4 linked regions of the Homo sapiens genome follow. The protein of the gene in region 3 binds, or shares a complex with, the protein of the main gene of each other region. Each region holds a gene or a part of one and is shown on either strand. Other genes may lie near its edges.

The links.
Region 1: MED8 (region 3) and MED21 share a complex: the UniProt entries of both Homo sapiens proteins name them as parts of the mediator complex.
Region 2: MED8 (region 3) and MED13L share a complex: the UniProt entries of both Homo sapiens proteins name them as parts of the mediator complex.
Region 4: MED8 (region 3) and CCNC share a complex: the UniProt entries of both Homo sapiens proteins name them as parts of the mediator complex.

Annotation. Positions count from the first base shown.
Region 1 is NC_000012.12:27,025,503-27,031,932, forward strand, and holds the end of MED21 (mediator of RNA polymerase II transcription subunit 21), read left to right. Parts: intron 1-917; coding exon 918-1,032; intron 1,033-1,844; coding exon 1,845-1,945; intron 1,946-2,782; coding exon 2,783-2,959; 3' UTR 2,960-5,171; downstream 5,172-6,430. UniProt on the Homo sapiens protein: Component of the Mediator complex, a coactivator involved in the regulated transcription of nearly all RNA polymerase II-dependent genes.
Region 2 is NC_000012.12:115,987,273-115,995,086, reverse strand, and holds part of MED13L (mediator of RNA polymerase II transcription subunit 13-like), read left to right. Parts: intron 1-3,129; coding exon 3,130-4,067; intron 4,068-7,798; coding exon 7,799-7,814. UniProt on the Homo sapiens protein: Component of the Mediator complex, a coactivator involved in the regulated transcription of nearly all RNA polymerase II-dependent genes.
Region 3 is NC_000001.11:43,386,260-43,394,837, reverse strand, and holds the start of MED8 (mediator of RNA polymerase II transcription subunit 8), read left to right. Parts: upstream 1-5,037; 5' UTR 5,038-5,073; coding exon 5,074-5,079; intron 5,080-6,348; exon of another isoform or gene 6,349-6,409; coding exon 6,410-6,528; intron 6,529-7,190; coding exon 7,191-7,335; intron 7,336-7,839; coding exon 7,840-7,980; intron 7,981-8,167; coding exon 8,168-8,249; intron 8,250-8,578. Other genes in the region: KICSTOR complex protein SZT2, read right to left, coding at 4,843-4,869. UniProt on the Homo sapiens protein: Component of the Mediator complex, a coactivator involved in the regulated transcription of nearly all RNA polymerase II-dependent genes.
Region 4 is NC_000006.12:99,544,146-99,551,959, forward strand, and holds part of CCNC (cyclin-C), read right to left. Parts: exon of another isoform or gene 7,751-7,814; coding exon 7,695-7,750; exon of another isoform or gene 6,884-7,694; coding exon 6,848-6,883; exon of another isoform or gene 6,448-6,847; coding exon of another isoform or gene 6,424-6,447; exon of another isoform or gene 6,165-6,423; coding exon 6,073-6,164; intron 5,431-6,072; coding exon 5,363-5,430; intron 5,255-5,362; coding exon of another isoform or gene 5,244-5,254; exon of another isoform or gene 5,167-5,243; intron 4,240-5,166; exon of another isoform or gene 4,152-4,239; intron 2,330-4,151; coding exon 2,250-2,329; intron 1,086-2,249; coding exon 967-1,085; intron 129-966; coding exon of another isoform or gene 77-128; exon of another isoform or gene 1-76. UniProt on the Homo sapiens protein: Component of the Mediator complex, a coactivator involved in regulated gene transcription of nearly all RNA polymerase II-dependent genes.

The sequences.
Region 1 (6,430 bases), on a different chromosome or scaffold from region 3:
TAATAATTCTGGTGTGAGATAATTGGTTGAACTAAGCAACAGTGATAGAAGGAAAAGAGAAAGATTTGTAGTATTAGCAGAATATGAAGATCAAAGGAAAGTAAGAATCTGAAGTTAGATTGGTTGACTAGGAGACTTTCAATACAAATTAAATATTAAAAAGAGGAAACAGTTGCCTTTGAGTTCTGTCATTGAAACAATGGCAGAGAAACCCAGTGGAAATACTTATTAGAAATAGGAGGTTTGAGAGGTCAAGACTAGGTGAGAGAAATTGGTAGGGAAGATAGGTGTATTTAATTTGGAGATGGTAAGGAATTGCTATTCCCAATCTTTAAAAGTACTTAAGGAATACTTTTAGAGTACAAGAGTTTACAAATTGAGTCTTGAACAAATACATTTCTGCTTACTTAAGGTGCTTTTCTGAGCAGCCTCTTCCTCACTATTTCTTTACACTTGTAACTACTCCAGTCTCAGAAAAGGAATCATATACTTTGTGCATGAGAAATAAATTTTTATTAAACATGGTGCCATAGATATTTACAAGTCAAATTTGCTCTTTTCCATCACTATCCCCAAAAAGTCTTTACTTGTGGCTTACAATAAGTATTGGCCAATATTCTCTTATCATTTTACTATCACAAGAAAAGAAAGATTATTTTGTATTTCAACTGTTTCAACTAGATTTATATCAAATTTAACTTTACCTAGATTGATACCAAACTTAGTTTCTTTGCAGAATTAAAACGTTTAATCAACATTAATAATAACTGGCTTATTTTATCAACAATCACTCCTTTCTGTTTTATTCCCTTGCTCAGAGATTATCATTACAGAAACTTATTGTTGTTGCCATTACCAATAAAGTCCTTAAAACTGATAAGTCCTTTCTAACCTTGATATGTTTTCTTTGGCCTAAGCTTGCAGATCAGTTTTGTAATGCCATTGGAGTATTGCAGCAATGTGGTCCTCCTGCCTCTTTCAATAATATTCAGACAGCAATTAACAAAGACCAGCCAGCTAACCCTACAGAAGGTAAACAGGTTTTCTTAGCTTCTCTTAGTTTGACTCTCACATTTTTTGTAATCCTTTAAAATTAGATTTCTTGAGAAATTCAGCTTATTTTATTTCTAAAATTATTGTTGTTTGAGAATATTACAAGTTTTGTTTGTTGTAAAAAATTTACAGTCAATTCACCTAACATCTCATAATTCTGGTTCATGTCAGATAATAGATTGTTACTCCTTTAGAGGAGAATTTGTATTAATTTAGCTGAGTGAGGGACCTTAACAAGGAAGGCATCCCATTTATAAATTTCTTTATTCAGGTGACCACTATATTGTCATAATAAATGAAATTACATACATTATGCTTAATTCCCAATTTGAGCTAAATGTGTAACAGGATTGGTGTATATTTTAATCATTAGAATCTTCTTTTTTTTTTTGAGACGGAGTCTCGCTCTGTCACCTAGGCTGGAGTGCAGTGATGCAATCTTGGCTCACTGCAACTTTCGCCTCCCGGGTTCAAGGAATTCTCCTGCCTCAGCCTCCTGAGTAGCTGGGATTACAGGCTCATGCCACCACGTCTGGCTAATTTTTGTATTTTTAGTAGAGATGGGGTTTCACCATGTTGGTCAGGCTGGTCTCAAACTCCTGACCTCGTGATCCGCCTGCCTTGGCCTCCCAAAGTGCTGGGATTACAGGCGTGAGCCACCACGCCTGGCCGAATCATTAGAATCTTAGGGCAGAAAAAGCTATATGAAGTTTCTGGTTTCATTAACTTAAAATTTGTTTCTGAAAACTTGAGGTTTTCTAATATCCTAATCTAGCAGTATCTTTCTCTAGAGTATGCCCAGCTTTTTGCAGCACTGATTGCACGAACAGCAAAAGACATTGATGTTTTGATAGATTCCTTACCCAGTGAAGAATCTACAGCTGCTTTACAGGTAAGCCTCTATTCCTTTGAGAATTTTACCAGTAATAGAGAATTTTGAATTAAAGGAGGTAGATTTAGTACCTTTTGTCTGTGTCCATTTGTGCTGCTATAACAACATACCTGAGACAGTAATTTATAAAGAACAGAAATTTATTTTCTCACAGTTCTGGAGTCTGGGAAGTCCAAGATCAAGGCATTTATTACTCACTGTGCATGAGTAATGAATTTTTATTAAACATGGTGCCATGTTTAGGGCCATGTTGAGGGCCTTCTTCCTGTTTCCTCACATGGCTGAAGGCAGAAGGGCAAAAGAGCAAGAGCTCCCTCTTCAACCTCAAGCCATATTTTAAGGGTACTAATTCCATCTATGAGATCTCTGCCTTCATGACTTAATATCCTCTTAAAGGCCCCTTCCCTCTTAATACCATCACATTGGGGATTAGATTTTAATGTATGAATTTTGGAGGGGATGCATTCAAATCATAGCACCTTTTGTTATAATATTCAAATTTCCATTATAAGGAAACCTCTTATTTTCCTCAATTTTGTCTCTTTTCCTAGTGAAGAATGAGAGGAGGGTGGCATTCTACAATTGGAGTAGAATAATGGTGTCTAAACGTAATGTGTAAGGGAGTCACTTAAAGATATCTAGAGATCTCTAATTGAAAAGTCATTCTTTTTAATAATTCACATGGGGAAAATTCTTAAAAGTTGTCTGATTTTTAGAATTTCTTTACTGAAAAACATATCACAATGATTGCAAAGTCATCCAGATTTAAAAATAAGTACATCTGTGACAGCTTCTCTTTCTAAACTCTAAAGATTTTAAAATTTGTGTCTTATAAAGGCTGCTAGCTTGTATAAGCTAGAAGAAGAAAACCATGAAGCTGCTACATGTCTGGAGGATGTTGTTTATCGAGGAGACATGCTTCTGGAGAAGATACAAAGCGCACTTGCTGATATTGCACAGTCACAGCTGAAGACAAGAAGTGGTACCCATAGCCAGTCTCTTCCAGACTCATAGCATCAGTGGATACCATGTGGCTGAGAAAAGAACTGTTTGAGTGCCATTAAGAATTCTGCATCAGACTTAGATACAAGCCTTACCAACAATTACAGAAACATTAAACACTATGACACATTACCTTTTTAGCTATTTTTAATAGTCTTCTATTTTCACTCTTGATAAGCTTATAAAATCATGATTGAATCAGCTTTAAAGCATCATACCATCATTTTTTAACTGAGTGAAATTATTAAGGCATGTAATACATTAATGAACATAATATAAGGAAACATATGTAAAATTCTGTTATGACATAATTTATGTCTCCATTTTGTTGTATTGGCCAGTACTTTTACAAATCAAAACATCTCTCAAGCCAAAGGAGAAGACAGTAAGAACAGACATAAGGGACATTTTAGTTTGGGCTAGTGTCCTGCCTCTTAGAGGTGGCATTGTGTAAATCTGAGCTTTGAGCAAGAAAGTTTTGGAAATTGTGTTGCTTTTAAGAAATAGAGTTAGTGTGGCTGGATAAGAAAGTCACATTTATGCAAATGTTTCTTCTGCTAGAACCTCATACCTGTTCTAGTTCATCTCCACGTTTATTTTACCAAGAGATCCTCTGTCAAGAGAATTTCCTGGCTGTTGTGAAAGAATTTTTCTACATCCTGAACTATTTTTCCTATTTCTTTTCACCTTGCTTTTTTTCATCCTTAATTTGCTTGTCATCACAATGAAGTATGTTTTTTGAATCATCAATTCTTTCTCATTCTCCATTTATCTGAAGGTTCTTTTGCCCTTATTAACCTCTCAACTTTTATTGCTGTATTCTAGTCAGACCAGAACATACTTCCACTACATCAGTTACTTGGCATCATTTCACCTCAGTTTATTATTGCCAAATAATAATTTGTGTCAGCATTTTCAACTATGGTTATTCATCCAACCCTTGGATCTCTTTGAGTCTACTGATAATCTCCACTGGAAAGGTGGAATTGAAATGTGGTCCACATTTTAACTAGCTATTTCCTGGGGCTGTATTTTTCAGAATATGCTGAGCTACATTTGCTGCAATCTGTTGCTATTCAGAGTTTAAGTTTCAGGAGAAAACAGGAACAATAGAACACTCTGCCTGTTATTTTTGTTGTAATCAAGCTTTTCCACAGTTCTTGAAAAGTACTATGTTTCAAATTTCAGGAACACCAGCGTTAGCTGTAAAAGTTGCAGCAATTTATTGGCTAGTCATAGAAAATTTTTGAACTTTTAACTGTATTTTAATTGATGTTTATTAAAAACACTTTGCTATCAGATATTTGGCATAAATCTGTACTCTTCATTATAGTTTTGGGGGGAGAGAAGATTCAGTCAGAAAACTTATTCAAAGTACCTAAGTATTATAAAGGAGTCAAAAAGGTACAAAGAGAAAAGGTCAAGACATTTTTCAAATGAGGGAAAACTAACAGGATTTATCACTAGTAAACCTGCTCTAAAAGAATTCAAGGGAAGCTTTTTAAAAAGAAGGGAAGTTATAGCAGAAGGAAACTTAGAATGGCAGGAATAAAGAAGGCATAATGTATAGGGTAAATATAATAGACTTCTCTTGAGGTTTTAAAAATTACATTTGTTATTTGAAAGAAAAAAATTAACGTTGTTGTATGTGATTCTCTGTAGAGGATATACAGTTTTTTTTTGTTGTTCTTGTTTCTGTTTTTTTAAGGTGAAGTCTCTGTCACCCAAGCTGAAGTGCAGTTCTGTGATCATGGCTCACTGCAGCTTCACCCTGGGTTCAGGTGATCCTCCCACTTCAGCCTCTTCAGTAACTGGGACTACAGGCATGTACTACCACGTCCAGCTAATTTTTTTTTTCTTTTTTTTTTAGAGATGGGGTCTCACTCTGTTGCCCAGGCTAATGCCAAACTGCTAACCTCAAGATATTAATACTATACAGTAGACTATAAGAAATTAAGTATTTGTATCATCCCTAGAGCGACACAGATTTTTCCCTAAAAAACTACAGATTATTTTCAAAAGCATTAATAAATTAAGGTGGAATACTAAAAAAGATTCAGGTAACCCAGGAACGAGAAACAGAATAAAACAATAGTAAACCTAAATTTTATTTTATTTCATTAATACAGCAATAATTAAATGTCAATGATCTAAGCTGATTTAAATCTAAAAACTGGATAAGAAGCTGTGGCTTGTAATTAAAAATAGACCTTTATTCACTAGACCTACAGTTTGCTTTTTTCATATGTTAAGAAAAGTTTAATATCCTGCTTCTCTATTTCAGTTCTAGGGGCACCACTATCAGTTAACCCTAAAGATTTCTGTGGGTGAAACCATTTTGATTACCATCTTGCTCTGCTGCCAGTTATGGTAACCAAACTCTCTTTGTTTCTGGATGCTAAATCTGTCCACTTGTGCCTTAACTACATCCTAACTCCCGTCATCTTCATTGAATTTAAGGAGCCAATTTCTTTTTTTGAGATGGAGTTTCACTCTTGTCCAGGCTGGAGTGCAATGGCACGATCTTGGCTCACCGCAACCTCAGCTTCTCGGGCTTAAGTGATTCTCCTGCCTCAGCCTCCCGAATAGCTGGGATTACAGGCAGGCACCACCATGCCTGGCTAATTTTGTATTTTTAGTAGAGACGGGGTTTCTCCATGTTGGTCAGGCTGGTCTCGAACTCCCAACCTTAGGTGATCCACCCGCCTCAGCCTCCCAAAGTGCTGGGATTACAGGCATGAGCCACTGCACCCGGCCAGGAGCCAATTTCAATGGGAGTATCCTTTACTATCATTCCTGACCTGTGATATTGGCCATTAGAGCCTTTCAAGAATGGTACCTCCTGCCGATGATTTTTTTTAAAGCCTTAATGAAGAGAGTGTCCTCTGGATCCTTCCAGAGAAGATAGGATGTGAGTGAGTAAGTTATGTATAATAATTTCACCCCAAAATTTCTATGTCCTTGATACCATTCCCTGTATACCAAGGAAGGGTATTCTGGCATTTCACTTTGATTTAATATAAGTAAACCCTGTGTCTGGGCATTAGTTAACAAACCAAGTGACTACAAGTGATAAGTAACTTTTACCATAGACTGTCAATTACCTTGGCAATGGAAACATTATTGCTTTTTAATCCAGTCAGATCAGAGAACAAATTCCAGATTTCCATCCTTAAGATTCTGTGTCTCTGCTACCACTTCTGGTAGCAAAACATGTCAGTGTGAGGTAGAGTCAATGGAATGTAGCCATGAAAAAAAAAATGCTACTACAAACATTACAGGAATAAGGAATTTGATCGAAGAATTAGCATTTACACAAAATATGGGAGGAGTTAGGGAAGTGAAAGAATGAAAGGAGAAAGAGGATAAAGAAAACACTAACCACATCACCCTAAAGCCCTTATTGCTAAATGAGGTTATTGTAGTGCCAGTTAAGTCCAGGTCAGCCAAGGCGTGCGTACCCCTTGGCCCCACTTGGAAAGC
Region 2 (7,814 bases), on a different chromosome or scaffold from region 3:
GGTGACAGAAAAGTACAGAGGAATCCTAGACTTAGGAAGCTACACTTGCAGTATTAATAAGACTGAAATTCCTGCCTTGCAAAAATTATATGCATGACCTTAAATGACCATTTTACGTGGGTCTTCCCTTTAAAATGGAGTAATCCTGCTCTGCCTCCCGCACAGGACTTCCACAATGCTTCAACGACTAATGACTGTAGAAGTACCGTGGAAATAACAATGCACCAGCAGTATAAAGAGTGTGCTGAAAAGCACCCTGAGCGCCTGGCTGGTGTGCTGCTGCTGTGCTCCGATTGTACTCTAGCTTACTCAGCTAGATCCTGGCACAACACACCTAGAACACCTTGGCGCATAAGGGGTTAGCTTAGCACATACAGTTGCCAATAAATGACATAGCAGTTTTAAGAACCCATTCAGCAGTTTAATCTCTTTCATACATACAGGTTTCCCCAAAAAGGTCACATGCAAGCTTTTGCTGTGTAATCGTTTAAATCATTTAGGTCATTATTTAGATCTATTACATCTTTCATTTGCCATCCCAAAGATTCTTTGTATTCTTAACTGGCTCTATTATACAACTTTATGTGATGAAGGTTTTGTTTTTGTTTTTGTTTTTGTTTTTTGGGGGGGTTTTTTGGAGACAGGGTCTCGCTCTGTCACCTGGGCTGGAGTACAGTGGCACAATCACAGCTCACTGCAGCCTTGACCTCCTGGGCTCAAGTGATCCTCCCACATCAGCCTCCTGAGTAGCTGGGACTACAGGCACGTGCCACCACACCCAGCTAATTTTTATGAAATTTTGTTGTAGAGTTTGTGTCTCCCTGTGTTGCCGACACTGGTCCTGAACTCCTGGGTTCAAGTGTTTCTCCTGCCTCGGCCTCCTAAAGTGTTGGGATTATAGGCATGAGCTACTGCACCTGGCATGTAGGTGATTCCTGTCTGCACTGTCCACTATGGCAGTCATCAGCTTCCTGCTGCAGGTGTTGACCACTTGAAATGTGGCTAGTGAGACCAAGACTGAATTGTTTTATGTTAATTAATTTAAATTTAGGACATGGGGACTGGTGGCTACCTTATTGGACAGTATGTTTCCAGCATATGTGTAATCCTGCTGTGGTCTCTGCTCGCCATCACCCTGGACTCCTCCTTTGTCACATGCAATACCCCTGCAATCATTTGCTTCATGTCTGCCATACTTGCTTATGAGCCACCTTTTGTTTCTCTTTTTCACTTTTGACTATCCAGCTTCTAGCGTAGGGTTGCTACTCAGTTCATTTTTATTAAATGGGAAAAATCAGATTACAAGATAAACCATTCTTACTACCCAGGGAGCAATTTAATTCTTTAGGTTTTCAGTTAGTACTCATAGTTCCTTTTCTGATCTGAACTGCGTAATAATTTTAGGGTTTTGTTGAACAGGAGAATTTGAAAGGAGTCCAGTTAGAGTAAAGATCGTTATTACACACTTAACTATTTTGGTCTCTAAGAGAGCAGTGATTGCCAATCAAGTTTTCTGGGTCATTTTTTTTTTTTTATCTGTACTCAAAGATACCACTGTGCCTCAGATTTAATATTTCTTTACAGTGCCTGATTTGGACTTTTAGGCTGGTAGTTTAGGCATAGCTAATTAAAAATCACAAGGAAATTATTTGAAGAGACATTTCTTTATGACGTGCTTCTTTCACATTATAAGTAACTGAATATGTAGTTTATTGGAGGAGCATTAGTTTAAGTACAGTATTAATATATATAAAAGGATATTAAAAAATTTTAAAAATATTCTTTTGATACCTTCTAAGTAGGAAGAATGGACTCATATGCTAATATACATATACATCTAAGAAAGTACAGTTGTCCCTTGGTATCCTTGGGGGATTGATTCCAGGACCCCCTCGGATACCAAAATCTGAAGATGCTCAAGTACCCTATATAAAATGGCAGAGTATTTCCTTGTAATTTACACAAATCCCTCTGTATACCTTAAGTCATCTCTGGATTACTTGTAATGCCTAATACAATGTAAATGCTATATAAATGTTGTACTTTACTGTTTTGATTTGTGTTTTTTAACTGTTGTTTTTTTTTTAATTGTATTTTTATTTTGATTTTCCATCTGTATATGGCTGAATCCACAGATGTGGAACTTGTGGCTATAGAGGGCCAACTGTATATCAAGAAAATGTTTTATGATAATGAAACAGCAGAACCTTGCAGACAGTGTTTTCTGCCTAGCTGTTCCAAAAAGAAGTCACTGCTTATGAGAAAGTAGATAACATAGCCCAGTCAGTCTTGGGCAACTAAAATAATTACACTATATGCAATGCATACCATATTGAAAAGTGAAAAATGAAGTGCTTACCACCCCACAGAAAGCTGCTGGAAGCTGGAAACTCTGATACAGTATGTGTACTTCTGTGCAACCACCTAATTAATACTGAGGCCTCTTAGCCGCATATGTAATATTTCTATCAGTTGTAGTATAGTACTGGTAAATGGGCTACCTAAAATATAATTCCCTCATGGTCACTCATTACTATAAAAATGTAAGCCTAGATAGGGCTGCATTTTGAAAATTAGAAAAATGTTAAATTTTCATGTGTATTTGATTATAACTACTTTGATATGATATATAGATTATAGCCTCAGAGAACAAGTACACTGGCAGACTTTGAATTTCAAAAAAAAAATGACAAAAATGTAATTGCAAATTAGATGGAAATTTCATCCTATGGTCCTCTAGCTAATTTAGTGTCTGCACTTATGGTTGAAGTTCCATTTAGTAGTTAACTTTTCAAATTACATTGACCAAACCCAGTACCATGTTTTCTTATAAAAATAGTAAAAGTTCCTTCAAGAGGTTAGGATGAGGATGCTTATATGTGGAATAAGTAGAAGGAAAGTGCTGTGTTGAATTATTCTTCATACCTTACTTTCTTCTTCTCTACACACTGCACTGACCTTTGTATCTTCTTTTTTTTTTTTAAGAGAAAATTAAATATACCAGTGTATCCCAGTGATAGCAGAAACAAATGATAAGAAATACACAGTACATGGCTGGGGTGATCATGTGTCTAGTTCAGCATCTGTGACATGCTGCCCTTCCTCACTTGGTGCCTTCTCTTTTTGTAGTAACGTGCCTAGTGTTGGGAGCCTAGCAGATCCAGACTATCTGAACACACCACAGATGAACACACCCGTGACGTTGAACAGCGCTGCCCCAGCCAGCAATAGTGGGGCAGGAGTCCTACCATCTCCAGCAACCCCTCGCTTCTCTGTCCCCACACCACGAACCCCCAGGACCCCAAGAACTCCCAGAGGTGGGGGCACTGCCAGTGGTCAAGGGTCTGTTAAGTATGATAGCACCGATCAAGGATCACCAGCCTCCACCCCCTCTACTACACGGCCCCTCAACTCTGTGGAGCCCGCCACCATGCAGCCAATTCCCGAAGCCCACAGCCTCTATGTTACCCTGATTCTCTCCGATTCCGTGATGAATATCTTTAAAGACAGAAACTTTGACAGCTGTTGCATCTGTGCCTGCAACATGAACATCAAAGGGGCGGATGTCGGGCTTTACATCCCCGATTCTTCCAATGAGGACCAGTACCGCTGTACCTGTGGGTTTAGTGCGATTATGAACCGCAAACTTGGCTACAATTCAGGACTCTTCCTTGAAGATGAGTTGGATATTTTTGGGAAGAATTCTGATATTGGTCAGGCTGCAGAGAGGCGCTTAATGATGTGTCAGTCCACCTTCCTTCCTCAGGTGGAAGGAACCAAAAAACCCCAGGAGCCACCCATAAGCCTTCTCCTCCTCCTCCAGAATCAACACACACAACCTTTTGCTTCACTGAATTTCCTGGACTACATTTCCTCTAACAATCGCCAAACTCTTCCCTGTGTAAGCTGGAGTTATGACCGGGTGCAAGCAGATAATAATGATTACTGGACGGAATGCTTTAATGCGTTGGAGCAGGGGCGGCAGTATGTGGATAACCCCACTGGTGGAAAAGTGGACGAAGCTCTGGTGAGAAGTGCCACTGTGCACTCTTGGCCTCACAGCAATGGTAGGTGTCCCAGAACACAAATTTACTTTGAGGAGTATCTTGGTATGATCATAACTTAAAAGCTTTCTTTACTGTATTTGACAAAAAATTTTAATTTCATGTCTTTCGGGGGAAAAAAAAGAACCTAAAGTGAGAGCTGTATTGATTTTATCCTAAACTTATGGACTGGGAGAATGTTTTATATTGAAATGCCTTTGGAGAAGAGTAATTGTTTTCTGAAATTTTCCTCTTGTAACTCATAAGTAAGCAGTCTATGTTGGGAACCTGTGACCGCTGAGTATCAGAGTCGTCAGGAGCTTACAGACTGATAATTTGCACACTCTTGCATGCTTAAATCCACCATTCTTCCAGATCAAGTTTCCAAGGAACCTCTTCCATGAAGCCTTCTAGCCATTTCCAGAGTCTCTTCTCCCTTCTCTGTTTTCCCCCTTTGTTGTATCACTTATAACAAAATCACATTTTACTTTGCATTGTGGTTACTGGGGCATATAACTGGTTGTATTATTAAAAGCTCCAGTGAAGTTGGGCTGTAAGAGTGCCAAGCAACTTGCTGTTTCCTTTTCTTACTCATTCACTGCCTAAACTGCAATGCATCATGGGGGATAAAATGGTTACTGAAAGAAACAAGGCACTTACCCTCATGGACTTTCTAATCTATTCTGGAAGTGGACATCAATTAAATAATTACACAAGCACGCATATTATTACAACCCATTTTATAAGTGATAAAAGCATGGGATAGACGGGGCACTCTAGGCTGAAGGTCAGAGAAGACTTCGTTGTAGAAGTAGTAACATTTGCTCAGAGATCTCAATGATGAGTACACATTAACTGAGGAAGGAGAATGGGGAGCGAGGCATGTGTCCCAGACAGGAGGTGCTGCAAGTGGGAAGGCCCTTGGTTGTATGGAGCTTGGGGCCTTTAGAAACTGACGCGAGGTTAGAAGCATGCAGGGGCTAGATTACAGTGACTCTTTAGAGGCATGCTAGGGGTTGGGTCTTCCTGCAAAAAGCAATACAAAGTCATTGAAAGGTTTTAAGAAGAAGCACTGATGTCAGATTTGTGTAGTTAAAAAGGAAAAATAACAATGTGCACTGGCTATAATTCTGGGTATGGATTAGAAAGTGGCAGGAATGGATTTGGGGAGACAAGGAGGTTAGTGAGGAAGACCTAGTAAGAAACAATAGCTTGCCTTAGTGTCCTTGTGAAGAAGGTGGAGAAGAAATATTATTGCAGGACTCAATAGTGAGTTGAGTTTTGGGGATAAGGGAAAGAGAGATGTTGAGGAGTCCCAGATTTGTTACTTGTATACCTGGATAGTCAGTGGTGTTCAAAGATAAGACTATATCTGGAGAGAAAGTTTATAAATTGAGTTGTGGAAGTTTGGAAGTTTTAAAGATCCCTTTTGATATATCCAGGTAGAGGTATCAAGTAGACTCTTGGGCCTTTTGCTCAGGGGAGAGGGAGTGGTTGGCATATAGGTGATAACTTCAATTAAGGGGGCACAGATGAGCTCATTGAGGAGGAGGAGAAAAGTATAGACGAGAAGAGGACCTGGTAGAGCTTAGCTACATTCTGACGGGTATAGGTGAGGCAGAGAAGCGTGAGCCTATCAAGCAGAGAAGGAAGAACCATAGAGGGGGCTTTTGGAAGCCAGGGGTAGCCAGTGTTTCAAGAAAGAGGAAGTGATTGACAGGCATTAAAATGCAAGTGAAGATTTTAAGATAAGGATTAAACATGTCTTCTGACCGTGGTGAGAGCTGTTTCTGTAGAGTGGTGGGAGCAGAGGCCAGACTGGAAGGGTTGTGTGAATGATGTGCGAACCCGGCTTCTGAACAACTCTCAGTCTTGCAGGGAAGAAAGTTATATAAGCTTCTTAAATACAGTTTGAAATCTGAAGTAATTAAAAGTATGTCCAGAGGTCAGTAGAGTATGGGGAGTGATGGGTATTTTCTGACTAGGCCAATCAAGGAAGCTTTCATGGAGGTAGAGATGACTAAGAAAGCATTAAAGGGTTATGCTCATTTGTATAACTGCTTAGGTTCAAGCACAGTGCCTTATACTTAAGCAGACCCTTAATCAGTTTCTACTGAATGAATTTATGAAGTGAAGAAAATGCAGCCTTTCCCCTAAAGAAATGTGGATGATCAGCTTGGGTGAGTCCTTTTACTAGATAGGCCTTCGGACAGAAAAGCAGTCTGTGTGCATGAATCAGTGGTGTCGTCTTTCAGGATGAAAAATAAGACATTTTATTGCAGGGGAGGTCTGGGTTTCAAATTTTAAGATGCCTAAAAGTACCAGATAATGTAAATGAATGTGATGGGAGACATTTGCAAAAGGCAGTGCCTTAAGCTGTCTTTTCAAAACTCACTTTCTATTTTGCAGGCACAGGAATAGGGTTCATAAGAAACGTGCTTGCTTTTAGTTTCCTCAAATCTGTGGTTCTCTTGGTCTGTGATTTCCTGCTTTTGATAGAGCCATTAATACAAGAAGTATTCACTGTTGTTGTTTACTATATGTAAAAAGAAGCACTGGCTGAAGATAAAAGGCAATGAAAACTGCATCAGACTCAGGACAGACAGCAGGGAAGGGGCCATGAGGTGCCTGAGAGGGACAGCTGCTCCTCAGCTCCAGCAAGTGGTGGTTATGCAGGAATATGGGTCTCCCAGTTCAAGGGAAGCTGGCAATCTAGATTTGTGTGTGAAATTTCCTGGAGTGATTTGTTCCAAAGTTTAACAAAATATTCTGTGGACCACCACTTTGCAACCTGTGTTTTACTGATTTAGGGACACGTTTGAAAATGTCTTAAGAATCCTTAATCATCCTGTGTTTCAAATTTAGTTGGCAGATAAATCTTAGATTTCTTTCCATGCCCCTTCCCTCATCAGCTAGAAGGGTAAGAGGGAGGCAGAGTCTTCAGGAATCCAGCTGTGCAGATTCACACCACATCACCTCCAGCGTCATTAGCTCTTTCTGCAGACCTTTTTAAGAATCTGATTTGCATGATGAACCCTCCATCCTGAGAAAAAAATACGTATGTCCAAGCGTGCTTGCACAGTTTTGCATGGAGTTCAGACAACTTTCAAATTTTAGGTTAGAAATCCCTCCCCAGGGCGACTGCTGGGACTAAAGTCATCTGCATTTAGAAGGCAGTGAATCCCATCCGTGCCTGCAGCGGACTTCGGTCCTTGAGGGCTTCAGCTGTGTTTCCCTGTGCCTCTGGCTGCACTGAAGATTGGCCTTCTCTTCATGCATTCTGTATTTTGTGAAAATATTTTTACAATTAGGAGCATTTAAAGAGTTTTTAAAAGCTTTTATTTAAGTTCCATTTTTTCCTACTTATCATATAAACAAAACATTGATATTTGCAAATAAAAGTAATAATTAAGAAACTTTTGCAGCTGTCTTATGAAAATCCTTGGAAACAGATTTCCATGGTTTTAAAAAGTCGCACCTATCCATTTTTCCACTTTTAAACAATTCTTCCATTAAACTTTTTTATATAGAGTAATCCATTTCCCCTTTTATTATTGTTGATACTAAATTATCAATTATTTTCTCTAATTTAGTAGAAGAATATCTTTCCTCCTGACTCCTAAGTCAAATATTTTAGAATCTACTACAGCTAATAACGTCATTGTTCTGAATATAACTGAGGCTCGAGGTGATGGTGAGGAAGAGGAGGGTGCTAGCCCCCTTATCTTCTCTGTTTCTTCTCACTTCTCTTCCAGTGCTGGACATCAGCAT
Region 3 (8,578 bases):
GCACCATCTCGGCTCACCGCAACCTCCACCTCCTGGATTTAAAGCAATTCTCCTGCCTCAGCCTTCCGAGTAGCTGGGATTACAGGCATGCGCCACCACGCCCGGCTAATTTTGTATTTTTGGTAGAGACGAGGTTTCTCCATGCTGGTGAGGCTGGTCTCAAACTCCCGACATCAGGTGATCCACCCGCCTCAGCCTCCCAAAGTGTTGGGATTACAGGCATGAGCCACCGCGCCCAGCCCAACAACTATATTTTCAAAACATCATTTCTAAGTTCTCTTCACTTTCAAGATGTAATTTATCATAACTAGAAGACTTAATAATTTAAGCAGCTAGAATGGTGTTTTTCAAAGTGGGATCCAAGGACCAGCTGCATGAAAAATCACCTGAAGTGCTTATGAAAATACAGCGTTGAGTCCCAGGCACCACCCCAGACCAACTGAATTAAGAGTTGATGGGCTCCAGACTGGGTGCTGTGGCTCACACCTGTAGTCCCAGCTACTCAGGAGGCTGAGGCACAAGAATTGCTTGAACCTGAGAGGTGGAGGTTGCAGTGAGCCAAGATCACGCCACTGCACTCCAGCCTGGGCGACAGAGCAAGACTCCATCTCAAAAAAAAAAAAAAAAAAAAGAGTTGATGGGCTCCAGAATCTACATTCTAACAAGGTCTCCAAGTGATTCTTCCACATTAACATTTGAGAATCCCTGAATTAGTTCTCAGAGCATCCACACTCACATGGAGCTTCAAGTCCTCATATGAATCCTCCTTGAGTCTGAAGTTCATTACTCTCAGAGTAGTCTGGCAAGGAAGACAAAGTAGAGTTTCGGGGTCAGGGACCTGGATTCAAATCTGATTCTATCATTTGCTATATAGGTGACCTTGGACAAGTTACTTAATTTTTCCAAGCCTCGGTTTCTTTATTGATAGTATGTGGATAAGAATATCTTCATAGGGATGTCGTTGCAATTAAACAGGAGAGGAAGGCTATCATTCTTTGGAATATTTATTGAGGTCTACATACCATTTATACCAAGATGAATAAAACATTACCAGGCACTGTGCTGCATACCATGTATACCAGGAAGAATGAAGCATGGTCCATCTCATTAATTTGTTGCTTTGTCTTTTTGTGCCTGTCCCTTTGTGATTAAGGTCTGATTTGTTCAGCCTTTTCTAACCCTTGTGCTGTCTTTTGTTAACACATTCCCACAAAATAATGTGGATTATTTCCCCTCTTGAACTGGCTAAAATCTTCTTACCACTATACATCAAAGTCCTGAGCCTCTAGCATGGCCTCAAGCTGCATCTTCTCCAGCCTTATCTCTCACCAATCCCCACGCAGTTAAAAGCATGTATTCCAGTGTTAGAGCACTTAGGATCAAATGCTTGCTCTGCTGATTATTAACTATATAGTTTTGGCAGAGACTTACACTCTCTATGCCTCAGTTAGCTCATCTGTGAAACACAGATAATAAAAGTGCTTATTTTCAGATAATTTTTGAGTATCAGATGATACTCAGTAAGCATTCAGTAAGTGCTAGCTATTCTCATTGTCAAACTGCATCCACACAAGGAGTTGCTTCCTCTTAGTTCTCTGAAGGCTCCACTGGGCTCCTTCTCACCTGAAGATCTTCACTATTCCCTTTGCCTGCAATGCTCTCTGCCTCTTCTTTTAGAAAACTTCTACCTATTCTTCAGGCTTCAGCTTAAATGTCATTCTTCTGAGTCTTCCTATTCACAACCCCTTGCCTCCCCATTTCTTAACAAGGTAGGTTGAGAACCACTGTTAAACACCCTAATTCACTCCTTTACAGCACTTATTATCCTAATTCAATCCTTGTTTACTCCATAAAGATAGAGAGCATGTCTGTCTTACACGGCTCTGTATCCACCCTGATACTTAGCACAATTCTGACTCCTACCAGCACTCGTAAAATATTTCAAGTGTGTGATGAATGAATGATTTCCTAAATCTGACTATACCCAATCTTTCTCTCTTGGGATCCTAACAGCCTCTAAAAGTCAATAACTTTATTACACCCAGGGGCAGAACTCTTCAATCTCTTTACCTTCTGATAAAATTTTCAGAAATGCAAATCAGGGAGTTAAAAAATGCTTAACTTAGGCTGGGCACGGTGGCTCACGCCTGTAATCCCAGCACTTTGGGAAGCCGAGGCAGGCGGATCACGAGGACAGGAGATTGAGACTATCTGGCTAACACGGTGAAACCCCGTCTTTACTAAAAACACAAAAAGTTAGCAGGGCATGGTAGCAGGCGCCTGTAGTCCCAGCTACTTGGGAGGCTGAGGCAGGAGAATGGCGTGAACCCGGGAGGCGGAGGTTGCAGTGAGCCAAGATCGCACCACTGCACTCCAGCCTGGGCGACAGAGCGAGACTTCGTCTCAAAAAAAAAAAAAAAAAAGCTTAACTTTTGGCTGAGACTCCCAGGATTGTGTGTCTTGACTTGAAATTACTTTAGATCTGTACTGCTCTATATGGTAAAGACTACTATATGGGGCTACTGAGCACTTACAATGTTGCTAGACCAAGATGGGATGTGCTATCAGTGTAAAATACAACACTAGATTTTAAAGACTTGGTACCAAAAAAAATGTTAAATATCTCACGATGTTTTGTATTTTATTACATTTTGAAAATTTTGGGAGTTTTGGGTTAAATATATAATTACATTTTATTTCATTTGTTTCATTTTTTTTTTTTTTTTTTTTTTTTTTTTTTTTTTTTTTTTTTTTGAGACGGAGTCTCGCTCTGTCGCCCAGGCTGGACTGCAGTGGCACAATCTCAGCTCACTGCAAGCTCCGCCTCCCGGGTTCACGCCATTCTCCTGCCTCAGCCTCCCGAGTAGCTGGGACTACAGGCGCCCGCCACCACGCCCAGCTAATTTTTTGTATTTTTTTTAGTAGAGACAGGGTTTCACCGTTTTAGCCAGGATGGTCTCGATCTCCTGACCTCGTGATCCGCCCGCCTCGGCCTCCCAAAGTGCTGGGATTACAGGCGTGAGCCACCGCGCCCGGCCTTGTTTCATTTTTTTATGTGGCTATCAGAAAATTTAATATTACACATGTGGCTTGCTTTAGATTTCTACAGGACGGTGTTGTCCTAGACTATCTGCCTAAAAGGTATGTTGCATTTCCCCACAACATCCCTCCACCTCCTTTCACTTTAATCTATAATGAAACATCCTCTAAACTGTTTCATAGTTTTTCTTGTGTTAATATTTCTGATTGATCTTGATTGATATTTCTGATGCATGAGCTATTCTACCACCTCTGTGAACATGACTATTTTAAATAAGGCATAGTTTCCTACCACCATATTCAATGTTGGGTCTTACCACACCAAATCCCAGTGAACTGGAGATTTACCATTCTGTGGCTACTTTATTACTTATACCATGAACAATATGGTTAAGAACACAAGGACTGGAGCCTGGCCATCTGTTTTGGAGTCCTGACTCTAATACTTAATAGCTGTGTAACTTTGTTACTTTTTTTTTTTTTTGAGACGGAGTTTCACTCTTGTTGCCCAGGCTGAAGTGCAATGGCATGATCTCAGCTCATCGCAACCTCCACCTCCCGGGTTCAAGCGATTCTCCTGCCTCAGCCTCCCGAGTAGCTGAGATTACAGGCCTGCGCCACCATGCTTGGCTAATTTTGCATTTTCAGTACAGACAGGCTTTCTCCATGTTGGTCAGGCTGGTCTCGAACTCCTCACCTCAGGTGATCTGCCCACCTCGGCCTCCCAGTGTTGGGATTACAGGTGTAAGCCACTGCGCCCGGCTTACTTTGTTACTCTTAATATCTCTGTGCCTCAGTTCCTAAACTAAAAAAAGGAGATGATACAGTGTCCACTTCATAGGGCTGAGGATTAACTGATATTGGTAAAGAGCTTAGAATGGTACTGAGCATGCAGTATGTATGCAGTAATGAATACTATTTCTATCATTATACACATCTCTCACCCTTCCCACCTACTGATATGTTGGCACCTTTCCTGGTGGTGGTGTTTTATCCGAATCTGAGATTTTAAGCTCAGATCTTCTAACTCCAAACTGCTAGTTCCTGGATGAGTGGCATTTGAGTAAGGTACTAAATCTTTCTCATTTTTCAGTTTTCTCCTCTGTGAGAATGCCACCTTCCTTGCACAAGTCTGAATGACACAACATATATAAGGTTCCTTGCATGTTCCTTAGCATTTAACGAATATATCATATCACCTTTCTGGTTTATTACATGTGATTCTCACAACACACTATAAGACAGATATTTTATAAAGAAGGAAACAGGATCCGGGAAGACTCGCCTGAGGTTGCACAGATTAGCTACATGACAGCGCCAATATTGGAACGAGGTCTCAGTCCGACTCAAATGTTTTTTTCATGAAATTAAAGCTGCTTTTCTAAAAGCATGAGCCCTAGAACTAAATAAATTCATGCTGTTTATGGTATTCCAATGCCTAAAGAAATGCAAAAACCAGCAAAGTAAATCTACTGCCGTGTTGCCCATTGAAACTGCAACAGAAAGTCAAAATACAAGTTTTGTTAACACCGCTATAAGTCTTAGAGACGACGACGCGGGTGACATGTCAGTAAACAAAACAAAGCGAACAGTTACTCCTTTAGCTCCCCGAGGAAACTGCGGACCGCGTCCCATACACAGTCCGCAGGGGTACCATAGTCGGGCCTTCCGGGCTGGGCTGGTCCCTGCCGAGGCTACGCAGCCCGGCCACCCCCAGACCTAGAGGAGGCCAACGCCACGCCTGCCCGCCGGACCCTCCCCCTCGGATCTCGGGGCCCAGTGCTGCGCCCGCCCGCCCCTCACCTCCGGCTCCGGGCGCTCCGAGGCCATCACACAGCCCTCCCGCGCCGGCCCGGGCCAGTGAGGGTGTTCCACTCTTGACCCCTGACCTCGCTACCTCGGCACCCAGCAGGAACCGGAAGTTGGTGGGAGGGCCGAGTTCCAGTTTTCTGATTGGTGGACGAAGCCTTCTCGTAGGCGTTTGCTGACTGGAAAACCGGAAGTGAAATCGTGGCAGCCGCCTCGGCCGCCGCAATGCAGGTGAGAGTTGCGTTGGGCGTACTAGCGGCTGGCAAGCTTCGGGTACAGGGACCGAGAGTGGGCTGGCTAAGGAGAATGAAGAGTTGGGACTGAGAAGAGAGGGCAGAACCCACGGCTGATAAGGGAATGTGGGCTGGGGGGCGAGGCTAATTGGAGCGGGAGCGGCGGCGATTAGAGGTGGGGGTGGAGCTTGCCTGACAGGAGACAGTCGGGCTAAATCCGGAGGGAGGAGGCAGCACCTGTTTGCTTGGCGTGGGAAAGGATTAGGTTGTAATACGGGGAGGCTGAGATGCAGTCCAAGGAAGACGGCTCAAGAAGGTGGTGGGTTGGCTCAGGCCCTGTCCTAAGCTGCTGGATGGAGGCTGTTGGTTGCCGATATAGCAGGGGATCTAATTGGAAAGAAGCCCAAGCAGTGAGGGAATTGTGGGCCGCGATGGCTGAAAGCTAAGCAGCTTATAATCAGAGGCCATGGTGGAACCCGGGATCAAGTTTCTGTCAGGCAGGTTTGCAAGACAGTTTTGCATCCCTCTTCCCAGCCTGTGCCCTATAGTTGTTAAGGGTGAAGAAATGGAGTAAAACAGGAGACCACCGATGGGAAGGAAATGCTTTGCAGACCCCCAGCATTTTAATTTGTTTGTCCAGTGCTTAGAAGCATGTGTGGTTTTTGTTTTTCATTTGTCACTTAGTTTCTTGCAGCTGGTAGTCTCAATAAATGTTAATGGGTTGACTGAGCTTGTGAAAGAGGCACGGGAATATTGACACAGAGATAGATGATTGCATATTAATTCAGCAAGGAGAAGGTTGAAACAAAATGATGAGAGCAGATGGAAAGCTGGAGTCGTTGGTTGGGGGAGGGAAAGGGGAGAGCAGGACTGGTGTTCAGAGAAGTCTTCATGAGTAGGCAGATTTCCCAGAGACTGACAAGACAGCCAGGCTCACAGATGCTAGGATGGAGGAAGCTGGAGTGCATGTGCTACAGAGGTGCACATGAGAGAATGATCTCCTGGCATTAGGTCTGTCGAAAATGTCTCAGTGAGGGAGTGTAGGGTGTACCTAACACAGAGAAAAACCAGGCATAGATTAGGAGGTGATGGGGAAAAGGAATCAGTTGGTGGAAGGACTTGGGGTCAGGCAAACAGGTTGGAAGGTCTCAGGGTTGATGCTGTCTATAACCCAAATACCAAAGATAGAAAACAACCTGGCTATCCTATGCCAATGAGATCCTGTGTTACCTGACTGGTGTTGCACACCATCTCCTTGGCTTTCCAGCCCTCCTTTCTATGTGTCATACTCGTTTATCTGGGTGACCAACCTGTTCCTATTGGTGCAGAGAGAGGAGAAGCAGCTTGAGGCATCATTAGATGCACTGCTGAGTCAAGTGGCTGATCTGAAGAACTCTCTGGGGAGTTTCATTTGCAAGTTGGAGAACGAGTATGGCCGGCTGACCTGGTAAGAGTTACCAGGGCAAGCTAGGAAGGGCTTATGGGTGGGGGGGCCTAGCCTCCTGATGAATAGGACATTTCTAATGATGTAACCATTTATCAGTTTGCAAACATCTTTTGATTTGGAAAGAGCTGGGTTTCCTAACATTTAGCAAGTGGATTCCATGGCAAGGAAGTAGAGAAATGCTCAGTTTCCTAACCCAAGTTCTTTCTAGCTTTCAATTCTTACCCTTTGACTTCTCTGGTGAGGAGGTCCTCCCACTACAGCTCTATTCGTGCTGGATCTCTTGCCACAGATGTGGCTGAGTCTTTTAGAGCCAACCTACTCTGAAGTGTGGATCTTATTTCCAGGCTGGAAAGGAGGCTTTTACCCGGTTTCTGAAGTTTTAGTTATAACAGTGTAGCCCTGGTTCCTATTTTGCCACTGTTCCTCACCCCATTCAAACAATGAACTGGGTTTTTTCTACGTCTGTTTCATAAACTGAAACTATGTCCCTCTTTCATAGCCCTGTCATCCCTGTTAGTCTGTTCCCACTTAGGCTAGTCATAGGGCTATGAGACTTTTGGAGGTGAATCCAAGTGTTCCTAGCCTGAAGGAACTAGGACTATTTTACTAAGAACCACCCAGGGAAGGGGTACAACATTCTTACACCTTGTTACCACCACCAGGCCATCTGTCCTGGACAGCTTTGCCTTGCTTTCTGGACAGCTGAACACTCTGAACAAGGTCTTGAAGCATGAAAAAACACCGCTGTTCCGTAACCAGGTCATCATTCCTCTGGTGTTGTCTCCAGACCGAGATGAAGATCTCATGGTAAGAGGAGAAAAAGAATACAACTTGGGAAATTAAGGGGTTTTTTAGGCTTCTTTAGTATTTAGGGAAATTAAGTTATTAGCTGAGAGCCTAGAAATAATTTTGGAGGCCTTGCTTTTTGTTCTTCTGAAGGCGGGAGAGCCACTCCCAAATAGTGCTGTAATAACCTGAGGGGTATGTCACCAAGGCTGATACCTTTCTTCTCCAACATCTGTCTCAAGCCACAAAGTTTGCCCTTTTGTGACTTTGTCTATTCCAGTCTTTGAAGCGTGGCAGACAGTGATAGTTTAATTTGCCCCTAGGTCTGGTAGAGATAGGGATGTGAGAAGACACAAAAAATGAAGGATGGAGTAAAGGAGAGTGTGTCCTAGCAAACTAGATATTATGTCTCAGGTTGTATTTTCCTTGAAAATGCACTGTTTGCCTGTGGATGGGACTTTATGTCAGGCCAGATAGAATCTTCTTGGAGTACAGAGTAGGATCAATAAAATCTGTGTGTTACAGCGGCAGACTGAAGGACGGGTGCCTGTTTTCAGCCATGAGGTAGTCCCTGACCATCTGAGAACCAAGCCTGACCCTGAAGTGGAAGAACAGGAGAAGCAACTGACGACAGATGCTGCCCGCATTGGTGCAGATGCAGCCCAGGTTGGACTGAGTCACTGCCTTGCTGCCCCATCCCCATCCCATCATGAGAAGCTAGGCATTACCATTCCTGTCTAGTAGGGATACATAGTTGGTTGCGCCTAAGTTGCTTCTGGCAGAACCCAAGGAATAAATTTCTCCATATCGTTTCCTAGTTACCCTAATCTCTGCACAAATTTGTGTGTTACAGAAGCAGATCCAGAGCTTGAATAAAATGTGTTCAAACCTTCTGGAGAAAATCAGCAAAGAGGAGCGAGAATCAGAGAGTGGAGGTATGATGGGACTGGTGGCTAAACAGAGAAGGAGAGGTATATAAGATCACTGGAATGGGAATGGTTGTTTTGGAAGTAGTGAAGTTAGGACACAAGGGTGAACTGCTTTGGGGTTTGTATCCATTCTGTTAGCCTTTTGTATTTAAGGCCAGCACTGAAGCAGTGGAGGAAATGGGCAAAGTAAGAAGAGAGAATTCTGAGATAGGCTTGGGGGTCCTCTGGCTCTTTTTCTGGGCTGTGAGGGAGTCTAGATGTTGCTGAATTCAGAACTCCAAACCCTGGCACTCATACTGGTCTTCCAGCTGCCACGTTCAGTCCTGCATCAGAAG
Region 4 (7,814 bases), on a different chromosome or scaffold from region 3:
TGAATACTTAAAAATAACTAAAACTGAAAATACCAGTAACTTTGGCAATAGGATTATTGCCTTATCTTGTCCACCATCATCTTGCAGCTTCAGGCCCTGCCACTAGTGGAGAATCACTCAGGGAATTTCTGCAAAAAATGCATCCAAAGGTAGCTGTTTGAATGACTGCCTTAAACAGCTCCTTGAATAAAGTATTAACTTTTTCCAAATTGTAACATTAACTTATGAGTAGCAATCCATAAATCTATCTTGTTATATAACAATCATTTTTCTAAAGAAACAATTAAGATGGATGGCATTTCTTTATTTCCCTTCTGACTTTTTCTCCCTGCCCCAAATGAACTGATACACAGTGAGGGCTGAGAACCACTGAACTAAATGAACACATCTTACTTAAAACACACACATACACCCCAATAACAACAAAAAAAACCCTCTTAGCACAGGTGATTCATTTTTAGCAAAAATATATTCTTATGTGCCATGGACCTTAGGGTCACTTAAAAACCAAAATTCTTTATCTTTACAATATCAGATCATTCATTGAAATTTTTGAAAATTGCTACTGAAATTTATAAAACAGGACAATAGCCAGCAGTGAAAAAAAAAAAAAAAAAAGATGGCACAGAATCAAACTGACATGAAACTACTATAGTTCTGAATTCTGCCCTGAATTTCAGATGAACTTACCTAATTCTGTCAGCTTTAAATTTATGGTATATGACCATATGTTGAGAGATACCTGTAATATACCTCCACTGCATTAGGAAAAGTTACTAATCAGATTAGTGATTTTTTTAAATGAGACATTCTCAATCAAATCACAAATTTAAAAAATAAAATTAACATGGATCATGAAGTTTTGGAAGAAATGTTTTAAAAACTACAAAACAACATAATCTAAGAAAAATATAGTAAGTATGATATATGATTAAATGACATCAATAATTAAAGTCTACAAAGTACCTGTTTGGAGGTGGTTTTGGTTTTGGCATCTTACTAAGAATGGTTGCCATCTCTTTTCTCTCATCGAAATTCTTCCACTGCTCATATAGTTTTAAAATAACCCTGATTATTTCCAAAATCTAGAAGAAAATATTTGAAAAGTTCTCAGTGGCAAAAACAAGCAACATTTTTTATATAAAGAGCATACATCACTACACAACCCTCAGAAAACAGTAAATAGTCTCTGTCCTTAAATCCTGATAAATTTGAAAGCAGTATTTTTCACCACAGTGCTGTTTAGGATTTTCCTTCTAGCATCTCATTTTTCAGCATGTGTGCATTGTCCATTCTTATCTATCTCTGCAGCTGATTTCCTTCCATCTGATGGTATCTTTTAAACTGAAACATACTAAGAATAAAGGTTCTAATCATGAGGGAATATACCACTATAGAGCACACTCCTCTAGTATAAATTATTTTAAACAACTTAATCGGGGGTAGTGCACAAAAGATGTTTTGATTCTCTGTTACTACACATACATTAAGGTGCTCAAAAACTGGCAGCTACAAATTTGAAACAACTAGTTAACAAATTAGCTATTTTTTTCCCACCTGAGTAGAACCTAACCTTAGGATTAATTTTAATGCATTTAACACTTGAGCAGAAAAGCTAGAAACACAGCAAAAGCCATTCTGCCAGGAGATAGGCTATGTTACAGAAGTTCACAGTAGTATTCAGTGGTTACCAGGGAGCTTTTAAAATAATCCTGGGAATGAGAGGCTACTTTGCAACCAATTAAACCAAAAGTTTACCATTCTGTTTAATCCTAAACTGAAAAGAGATACATAACTTAAATAATCAGCATTAACTCTTCCTACCAAACTTTTTTTTTTTTTAAACGGAGTCTCGCTCTGTTGCCCAGGCTCGCGTGCAGTGGCACGATCTTGGCTCACTGCAACCTCTGCCTCCCAGGTTCAAGCAATTCTGTCTCAGCCTCCCGAGTAGCTGGGAGTACAGGTGCATGCCACCACACCCAGCTAATTTTTGTATTTTCAGTAGAGACGGGGTTTCACCATATTGGTCAGGCTGGTCTTGAACTCCTGACCTCAGGTGATCCGCCCACCTAGGCCTCCCAAAGTGCTGGGATTACAGACACAAACCACCATGCCCAGCCCATGTTTCTTAATATTTTGTAACCAATAATCTTCTTAGCCTGGTGGACATCACAAGATTTTAGGCTCATGATAAGTAAATATGACATTAATTTTTAAACATCCAAGTTTACATACAACTAAGGGAATACCTTTTCCATATCCACAGAAAGCTCAGCAAACCATTGCCTGGCATCTTTCTGCTGTACAACACAGGCTACATGTAGGCAAGCTGAAATGAAAATGAGAGACAACTGTCCATGTTTAACTGCAAACACAGAATATATGATCTAACAAAGATTTTTCACTATTTCCTGTGTATTTTCCAACACTCTTTAAAAAACATTAAACAGCTACATATGAGAGTTACCACTGACCATCTCATCAATGTAATCCGAGACAGAAAAAATTACTAGATTACATCAAGTTCTTGACATCTGGTCCTCACTGCGTGCTAGTCATGGTGCAGTTGCCTTGAGAGTCAGGCACGTTAAAGAGGAAAAACATCCAATGAGGAGAGCAGAAAAGGGAAGTTATCCCTGAGTAGTGTACAAAGTAGCCGTTAAACTGCACCCAGAAGTCAGTGTGACAAAACAAAACAAACAAAAATGTTAATTAATATACTAGGTTTTAACAATGTTGACTGTGTTTCCACATTTCAGTTAAAAGCAGTGTTGCCTGGCCTTTTTTCTTCCTTTTCATTATTAGCACATGATCAAGTTATGTGAAAGCTGGGCACATCCTTACAGAATTCAGTGTTGTAATCAAATAAAGGTTAGAAAATAAATGTAATATACTGTATACAATATTAGTTATATATGTTATATACAATATAAACTAACAAAAGAGAGGAATCTACATCATAATTTTGCCTAAAACAATTTCTACTGAGCAGCCTGTATACCCTTAACCCACTCCAGCTTAAGTTATACTCCGTGGTCTGGTTATCCATGTCTTTGCTAAGGATGACATTCTAGGCAAATAGCAACTCAAATGTGAACTGACACACTGGTTGCCCTAAGTCAAGCAAAGCTATGAGTAGGGCTTAGGTCAAGAAGAGGTTAAAAAAAACCAAATGACTGACATGATAAAAACAGGAAATTAAAATACAGTGGACAATGCTATTAACATGGGCATGCATAGAGTACACTGAAGATTGAGGAAGCATCCTAAACCCAGACTGAGGTGATGCTGAAAGGGTGGGGGAGGGTCACTGAAGAGCTGATATCTAAGCCAAGTCTTACAAAAAAAAAAAATGAGAGTGGGAGAAGAGAATAGTATGTATATCAATTGGGAGACGAATTTGGCTAGCTCCGGGTTTCTCAATCTTGGCACTACTGACATCTTAGGTTGAACAATTCTTTGACACTGTCTTGAATACTACAAGATGCTTGGCAGCATCCCTGGCTTCTACCCACTAGATGCTAGTAGCACCCTACCCTAGTTATGACAACTAAAACCAAACATTGCCAAATGTCCCCTCGGGGCAAAATTATCCCCAGGTGAAACCACTAGCCTAGCTCAACAGTTTGGAAGATAGACAGGCTCTCTGAGGATGGGAGTGCTGGAGGCTAATAAGCCAGTTAGGAGACTGCTGTGGTAACATGGATAGAAATGAGAAGATGACTATGAGATTACAGAAGGAACAATCGAGAGGAAGGCACAAAATGTACTGGTAAACAACTACATGTGGGTATTGAGGGAGATGAAAGGGCCTAACTGCTGGGTTTCCAACTAAGGTATATAACTAGTGCTATTCACCAAACTGGCAAAGACATTAAAAGGAGGAACATATTTTGGGGCAAAGTGATAAGCTCAATCCTCATCATGAGTCTGAGGTGCTGGTGGGATGCCAAGCGGAGCTATGTAAAAGGAAGATGGATATAAAGAACTGCCAAGTGGCAAGATCTTGGCTAAATAAAGAGATTTAAATGTTTCGGCATGTAAGTGATAGTAGAAGCCATGAATCTCAGTTAAAGTACCCAAGAAGAAGACAGCAGGGATGGCAAAGATGTGACACATGTTCTGTTATCCCTTCCTTCCTACCTATGCAGATCCCAGTATTCCTACCCACTGGGTAGGACACCACTCAAAATCCTTTCAAATCCAGTCCTTTCAGGGAACTGCCAGTAATACAGAAGTGTAAGTATAACCTATTTGTCAGCCCTGATGTAAGAAGGCCAAGAAACATCAACATTTAAGGAATAATTGAACAACTGAACAAAGACAAACCAATGGAAAATAAGAGGGGAAAATCAAGAGGATGGAGTTATAAAAATCAATAGAAGGGGCTGGGGTGCAGTGGCTCACGCCTGTAATCCCAGCACTCTGAGAGGCCAAGGAGGGTGGATCACCTGAGGTCAGGAGTTCAAGACCAGCCTGGCCAACATGGCGAAACCCTGTCTCTACTAAAAATACAAAAATTAGCCAGGTATGGTGGTGGACACCTATAATCCTCCTGTAGGCAGGAGAATCGCTTGAACCCAGGAGGCAGAGGTTGCAGTGAGCCAAGATCACACCACTGCACTCCAGCCTGGGAGACAGAGTGAGACTCCATCTCAAAAAAAAAAAAAAAAAAAAATCAATAGAAGGAAAAGGAACAAAAATTAACAAGTGCCCAATATATAACAGGCATTATTTGGTGCTCTACAACCTATCTCATTTAATTCTTCAAACGGCTCAGTGGAATTATTAGTATTCTCTCCATTTTACAATTAAGGAAACAAACACGGAAAGGTCAGATAATTTTCCCACAATTGTAAAGGAGGTAAAGTTTAAGCCTAGGACTATCTGACTCCACCCATTACAGCACTGCTTTCCACAGACTGTAGAATGAATGTACTTAACGTCTTCCTCCAGCCAAGCATTATGGACCACAGATGCTCCTTTACTCAACCTCTGAGTATTTGTTTGGGCTCAGGATATGAAAGCCCCAATTATTTTACATGCTACAACTAATATTAGCTGGCTTAATTCTGAACTTTTCCCTCTAAACAAACAAATATGTTCTATTCAGACACCGATTAAAACTATTTTGAATGGTTTCAAAAAAAAAAAAAAAAAACTTACCAAAAAGGGGGTGGGGGAATAATAATCCTGATTTATGACAGTTGCAGTTCATATTATTGAAAGCTCACATGCAAGGATTAGTCTATTACTTCATGGAACATAAAAACATAAAGTACAATAGGGTGAAATTTAGTTTAGGATGACCTAAATAAGTTTATAACAATTTAACTCATAAAGGCACACCATGCTTACATACCTAAAGCTATCATGAAAGGAGGATACAGTAGGCAAAGATCCGTTCTGTAGGTATCATTCACTATCCTCCTATAGAAATGTAAATCATATTATTACTGAAAGCAGAACTACCTCATCTGATTGTATATTTCCTCCAGAGAGGGCCAGATTTCCCATCTTTGCACACATTTATTTCCTTTTATACTACTGAAGCACAGCTATAAAAGTGAAAACATCAAGGCAAAAGGATGGATACATGAATGTGACAACAAATAAGCACATATCAATGAATAAAATTACAGCTAAATATATTTTAAATTTCAAAATCTCATAACAAATTATAAACACATTTTTCTAATTTTTTAAAAATCAGAAAAATCAAATTAAAAAACCAGAAATTATACAGTAAATTTATATGTATGTTGCAGACTACCAAAAAGTATTCTGATTACTTTAAAGATAACTTCAGTCTTAATTTTTATGTTAACAGTCTGTGTTTTGTATAAAATTAAATTTTAATAGGTATATTTATGGAACAGATAATTTAGGATTGTTTTCATTTTGGCATTTACACCACTATAGTTATTAAAATTCAACAAGTGGTATTTTGCTCAACATAAAATATCTTGGGGCAATAGTTTAATGACTTTAAAAATACTTAACTTCATATTTAATTGTCAACCTTCCTATCTAATAACATGTTACACTATTAATAACTTCTGTTCTAATTACCATGCAAGGGGAAGCAACATGTCTTCTTGGCCCATGTCCTGCACATACTGGAGCAAAGGTCTATAAGGATGATACACTATCAAGCAACAATCCTAGAAACAGTTTAAAAAATGTGTATGTATAAAAAACAGATTTATTACAACACAAAAATGTTATCATTACCCAACTGATTTGTAATTGTGTATTTCAAAGTGAATTTCACTAACTCATGCTTGCTTCCCTTTTATTCTCTTAAGCTAGCAGTATGACAGCCCTAAACTCTACCGTAATAGTGAAGGCAGTGCTCTCTCTGGAATATACCTTGATAAATCGGTTGGCAGTCAGTCAGCATCCATTCATTCCCTTAGAGACTCAAAGTGTCACATCTGCAACACACTGAAACCTCTTATTAGCCTATAAATTCATAATTCCCAACTGGAGGAGCAGAATTCTGCCAAAGACATAATCTATCTTTAAATAACACTGCACGCACACACAAATTGTGCACATAATTTATGGTGGTTTAATGTCCTGACTTGTCTGTTTGTAATCCTTTCATTATAGTTACTTACTATAGAACAGAAAAATTTTCCCATCCTAAGTAGGATATACAAATTATTTTACAGGCTTCAGAGAGACTCTAGGTGCTAATATAAATAGGCTACCATGATTTCACCATCACATATTAGGTGGATGGTTTTAAAATGTACCTCTCTAAAATCATTTCTTTAAATAATTTCCAACTTCATTTAATTTAAAAATGTTTTAATCTATTAATCACAGAAGATTTACTTACCATTAGTTCTAACAGATAGAATTCACATTCTAATATCTGTTTAAAACAAAGATTATCAATGAAATGTCAATATGAAACCAAATTAGATAAGTCCACTTAATCTAACATAAATTACAGACATTATAGTAATTTATCAAAAATTTTTACTAAAAAGTTTTAAAAATCCAGACAATAAACATAGTTTATATTAAAATAAATATCTGCAATAAAAAATTACTATTAGAAATGCAATTATGATTATAAGGATTTTAATCCTTGTAAGGAAAAGCCAGCTTCTCACAATCATTCTTATTACTCACTTTTATTTAAAATATCCTGTAAAACCATCAGATTTTCCAGTATACTTTCTACTCAGCAAATGCAAAAATACAATTATTTCTACTTAATTTAAAAAATGTAACTTAAAGAGAATAAACAAATCCCTTGCAAGGTGGAAAAAGGACATACCTATTAAAATGTCAATAGAAATTCACCTTATATTTCATATTGTTCCATTAGTTTTTAATCCCAGCTAAATAGTAGTATCACCTGGGACCTTTTACACAGTACCAATGTTGGGAGCCCCAAGGCTGAAAATTCTGATTTTGTTGTTCTGGAAAGGATCCAACATCAGTATTATTTACAAGTTCCCAAGGTGATTTAATGAGCAGCCAGGGTTGATAATCGCCACTATGAAGTATTTTTTTTAAATGGTAAAAGCTATTTAGCTTTAATTTAGAATAATGTCTGTATTTATGTAATATTTGAAACTGCCATTTCTAGGAAACTATTAAATTTAGTCTAATATAAAATAGAGCTAGTTTATATATAGCTTTGATAATTGTTCCATTTTATATCATATACTTACATGATTCATCCTATAAGGAAATTCCTTTGGAAAGGCATATGAAAATCTAGTTTTTACTGCAGAAAATAAAAAAAAAATTTAAACTGAGAAAATGGGAAATAAATTAACTCAAAATTCCTT